Regions from separate parts of the Homo sapiens genome. Here region 2 is linked to region 1. Evidence: fine-mapped expression QTL. Tissue or cell type: sigmoid colon. Region 1 holds a variant in brackets; the other region holds the start of a gene. All regions are shown on one strand. Distances are from middle to middle.

Region 1 (2,500 bases):
TGGATTTGAATCCTGGTTCTTCCTCTAATCTCTTATGTCATCTGGGGCAAATAACTTTTAAGCTCTCCATGCCTATTTCCTCATCTGTAAAAATAATTATAATAAGTAGTACTATTTTAAAAGGTTGTTATGTATATCAAATGCAGTAATATATACATATATATATATTATTGTTGTTGATGCCATCCTTGCTGTATTATTGCTTGCTATAGTATAACAACATCCTTGCTGTACTTTTTTTTTTTTTTTGAGACAGGGTGTCTCTGTCACCCAGGCTGGAGTGCAGTGGTACGATCTTGGCTAACTGCAACCTCCACCTCCTGGGTTCAAGTGATCCTCCCGCCTCAGCCTCCCTTGTAGTTGGGACTACAGGCACGTGCCACCACACGTAGCTAATTTTTGTATTTTTAGTAGAGATGGAGTTTCACCATGTTGGCCAGGGTGGTCTCGAACTCCTGACCTCAGATGATCCACACGCCTCGGCCTCCCAAATAGTGCTGGGATTACAAGCATGAGCCACCATACCCGGCCCTTGCTATACTATATGATTATTATTTTTGATGCCATCCTTGCTACTGGTCTTCAGAGGTTGTGGGAAGCTACCTGCCTAGTTTCTACTCTTTCTGATGAGATCCTGACGGGATAGAACTCAGCAGGCTAAGGAAGTTGCTAATGAGGCCCCCTAAGGTATTCCTCCAGGAGTCTGGTCTCACAATAGAGACAGAGTGAAAAAAAAAAAAAAACTAAGGGGGGAAGGGAAGCAATAATCTCACAGAAGAAATTAGCATGCCCTCCCTTACCTCCCCCAGGATTTGGTATGCTAAAGCACCTTTCCTTTTTCAATAAGTGGCAGAAGGAAAGGGCATCACAGAGAAAAGAATAAAGATATTTAGTTCAGCTGGGTATGGTTGCTCATGCCTGTAATTCCAGCTACTGAGGAGGCCGAGGTGGGAGAATCACTTGAGGCCAAGAGTTTCAGCCTAGGGAACATAGTGAGACCTTGTCTCTAGAAAAAACTGTTTTAAAAATTATCTGGGCGTGGTGGTGCATGCCTGTAGTACCAGCTACGCAGAAGTTCGAAGCTGCAATGAGCTATGATCATGCCACTGCACTCCAGCCCAGGCAACAAAGTAAGACCCCAAGTATAAAAAAACTAAAAATTCAAAAAAATATCAGTTTTGGTTCTGTCCTTAACTGTCTAGGGCCCTGCCCTGGATCTTCTTCCCTTACTACTCCCTTTGCTGTATCTGACTGGGTCAGTACTGGTCTAAAAACCTCTTTGGGATCCTTTTTGGCTTGTTCAACCAAACCCATTTTGCAGTGACCTTTTACTGACTGGCAG[G/A]TGAAAAGCAGATGGCCTCCACCTGGTTTTGCTCAGCCTGTGGCATCAAACAGTATGACACTTCCTAAGATGGGAAGTGGGGGGGACAGGGATAGTACTAGGAGCCTTGCCCAGCAGGCTTTTCTCTCCCCTGCCCCCGAGACAGAGTTTCGCTCCGTCGCCCAGGCTAGACCCAGGCTAGAGTGCAGTGGCGCGATCTCCGCTCACTGCAAACTCCGCCTCCCGGGCTCACACCATTCTCCTGCCTCAGCCTCCCGAGCAGCAGGGACTACAGGTGCCCGCCACCGTGCCCGGCTAATTTTTTTGTATTTTTAGTAGAGACGGGGTTTCACCGTGTTAGCCAGGATGGTCTCGATCTCCTGACCTCGTGATCCACCCGCCTTGGCCTCCCAAAGTGCTGGGATTACAGGCGTGAGCCACTGCACCTGGCTGCCCAGCAGGCTTTTCTGCCTCATTAAAGGATAACCAGTACCTTTTCCCCACTCTGTGTGACAGAACAAGGGATAGGTTGGGAATGCAGGACCCCTGTGGAAAGAAAGTGTCCAGAATGAAAAGTATTTCATTGCTACTCGGTGTCTTATTGGTGTTATTTAAGTTTAAGGGATTAGAGGGCAAGGGGTCCACTGTGGGTGGGGTGAGGACCTTATCCTCAGCTTGCTGGCTGATCACAAACTTTACTTCTCACAGTGTTACCGGGACTTAGCTCTGGTGAGTCGTGATGGCATGAATATTGTCCTGAATAAAATCAACCAGATACTTATGGAGAAGTACCTGAAGCTGCAGGATACCTGCCGTACTCAGGTAAGGCCAGAAAGAAAAGACAAGATCCAGCTCAAAGAGAGAGGATGGATCTTCTCTCTGTCAGGAACGGGAAAGAGGAATCAGGGCTAACACACCCCTATCATTGTGTGTCTAAATTGTAATGTGCTCCTTTCAGTTGTAATTGAATTAGCTCCCTTCTCAAACTCACAGTTCCTGCTCTTCATCTGTTTTTCCCTCTTTCCTTTAGTTGGTGTGGTTGGTACGGGAACTGGTGAAGAGTGGGGTTCTGGGAGCCGATGGTGTTTGTATGACGTTTATGAAGCAGATTGCAGGTGAGTTTGATGGCAGGAGCATAAAGAAGAAAGGAGGAGAGCCCAGAGACTACATAGAGACAAT
Region 2 (2,605 bases), 67 kb before region 1:
AGAATATTCAAGTCTCCTAAAATTCCATATATAGGAAATGTACTTCAACATTCTGCTCTGTCTACACAGAATACCTTTCTCATCCTTCCATCCTCTTGAATTATTTCTTTTTTGGAGATTTTCTGGCCCCAATCCAAGCAGAATGAATAGCCCTCATCTGAGTCCTTTAGCAATTTATCCATGTCTCCCCTGTAGTGCTTAATGCATGTTGCATTACGGTTATTTGTCCCAAATGGAGCTCCTCAAAGGCACGGACTATATATATTCATCTTTATGCCCTCGGCACCTAGTGGGTGCTTAATGCACCGAAGGTTCTCTGGAAATGTTTGCTGACCTGAAGTTTGGTGATCTTATGTCCTGCTTAGGCGCAGCGTTGGAGAGGTTGGCGCTGCAATGCCGTCAATAACCCCCGATGACCATTAGAGGGCACACTGATTCCACAGCAGTCTGCACCGGGGGCCCAGCTGTCAAGTGCTCCAAAACCCACTCCCCAATTTACGCCTCCAGTGGTCATCTCCCACAGCCTTCATTTTAACAACCCTCAACACAAAACAGTCATTTTCTTGGGGCGTCCCTGAGGTGTGAACCTCCTCCCTCCCAGACACCCACCCACTCTCCCCATCTTCCTACAATTTGGGCGCTAAAGATTTAATTCCTCTCTGACACCAGATCATTTTTTCACAGCTAATCTGCACAGTCTGGAAGGTGGCAGGGAGGGAAAGAGAGGGAGATCATAGAAGGAATGGGTAACAAGCACTCTGGGCTCACCTTCAACTTTAACGGACTTTCCAGAAACCCGTCACCTTCCACCCCACACCCAAACACACACATCCACGCACTCACTCAGTTTCCTGCCAGGATCCCAAACCAGCACACCTTTCCCTCTTCCCCCGAGGAGACCAGGTAGGAGGCGAGGGAAAAGGTGGGGCGCAAGTGGGCCCCGGTTGCTTCCACACACACCCTCCGTTCAGCCGTCCTTTCCATCCCGGCGAGGGCGCACCTTCAGAGGGTCCTGTCCTCCAAAGAGGTAGGCGTGGGGCGGCCGAGACCGGGGAAGATGGTCCACGGGGAAGCGCGCGGGCTGGGCGGCGGGGAGGAAGGAGTTAAAGATCCTGGATTGGCTCTTCTGTCACTGAGTCTGGGAGGGGAAGCGGCTGGGAGGGAGGGTTCGGAGCTTGGCTCGGGTCCTCCACGGTTCCCTCCGGATAGCCGGAGACTTGGGCCGGCCGGACGCCCCTTCTGGCACACTCCCTGGGGCAGGCGCTCACGCACGCTACAAACACACACTCCTCTTTCCTCCCTCGCGCGCCCTCTCTCATCCTTCTTCACGAAGCGCTCACTCGCACCCTTTCTCTCTCTCTCTCTCTCTCTCTAACACGCACGCACACTCCCAGTTGTTCACACTCGGGTCCTCTCCAGCCCGACGTTCTCCTGGCACCCACCTGCTCCGCGGCGCCCTGCGCGCCCCCCTCGGTCGCGCCCCTTGCGCTCTCGGCCCAGACCGTCGCAGCTACAGGGGGCCTCGAGCCCCGGGGTGAGCGTCCCCGTCCCGCTCCTGCTCCTTCCCATAGGGACGCGCCTGATGCCTGGGACCGGCCGCTGAGCCCAAGGGGACCGAGGAGGCCATGGTAGGAGCGCTCGCCTGCTGCGGTGCCCGCTGAGGCCATGCCGGGGCCCCGGCGCCCCGCTGGCTCCCGCCTGCGCCTGCTCCTGCTCCTGCTGCTGCCGCCGCTGCTGCTGCTGCTCCGGGGCAGCCACGCGGGCAACCTGACGGTAGCCGTGGTACTGCCGCTGGCCAATACCTCGTACCCCTGGTCGTGGGCGCGCGTGGGACCCGCCGTGGAGCTGGCCCTGGCCCAGGTGAAGGCGCGCCCCGACTTGCTGCCGGGCTGGACGGTCCGCACGGTGCTGGGCAGCAGCGAAAACGCGCTGGGCGTCTGCTCCGACACCGCAGCGCCCCTGGCCGCGGTGGACCTCAAGTGGGAGCACAACCCCGCTGTGTTCCTGGGCCCCGGCTGCGTGTACGCCGCCGCCCCAGTGGGGCGCTTCACCGCGCACTGGCGGGTCCCGCTGCTGACCGCCGGCGCCCCGGCGCTGGGCTTCGGTGTCAAGGACGAGTATGCGCTGACCACCCGCGCGGGGCCCAGCTACGCCAAGCTGGGGGACTTCGTGGCGGCGCTGCACCGACGGCTGGGCTGGGAGCGCCAAGCGCTCATGCTCTACGCCTACCGGCCGGGTGACGAAGAGCACTGCTTCTTCCTCGTGGAGGGGCTGTTCATGCGGGTCCGCGACCGCCTCAATATTACGGTGGACCACCTGGAGTTCGCCGAGGACGACCTCAGCCACTACACCAGGCTGCTGCGGACCATGCCGCGCAAAGGCCGAGGTGAGACGCTGGCACACCCCGTCCCGCCGCTTAGCCGCAGGGCCTCCCCTCTGACCTGCCGGAGGCATCGGGACTTTCTCTCTCATCTGGGGGCACTCTTCTTTCTCCTCGCCGTTCTTCATTCTACTTTCAGCTCCCTGGCCCTTTCTACAGCTGAGTTTCTATTTCCCTCTCTTCTTCCGCCACCCCCACCACGTCTCTATCCTCTCATCTCCCCGA

Which allele goes with the higher level. Positions count from the first base shown, and alleles are read on the strand shown. Sizes are in standard deviations (SD) of each study's normalised expression.
In carriers of allele A in region 1, the expression in sigmoid colon of the gene that starts at base 1,245 in region 2 tends to be higher than with G alone (small effect, 0.19 SD a copy in GTEx).

Evidence for each region. PIP is the estimated chance that this variant, and not a neighbour inherited with it, causes the effect.
Region 2: it holds the start of NPR1, and the variant in region 1 is fine-mapped to the expression of NPR1 in sigmoid colon (GTEx, PIP 0.97).

The regions. Positions count from the first base shown.
Region 1 is chr1:153,744,928-153,747,427 of GRCh38, forward strand. It overlaps INTS3 (integrator complex subunit 3), which reads left to right. Exons shown (of 30, transcript NM_023015.5): 4 at 2,030-2,143; 5 at 2,352-2,436. Among named protein-coding and RNA genes, the nearest start is that of INTS3, 18 kb to the left of the region's middle. RefSeq lists enhancers at 1-587, 588-1,327. The variant G/A (reference allele first, on the strand shown) is at 1,343.
Region 2 is chr1:153,677,444-153,680,048 of GRCh38, forward strand. NPR1 (natriuretic peptide receptor 1) reads left to right here and starts at 1,245. Exons shown (of 22, transcript NM_000906.4): 1 at 1,245-2,386. The coding sequence starts at 1,666. RefSeq lists enhancers at 482-1,463, 1,464-2,444 and a silencer at 1,986-2,045.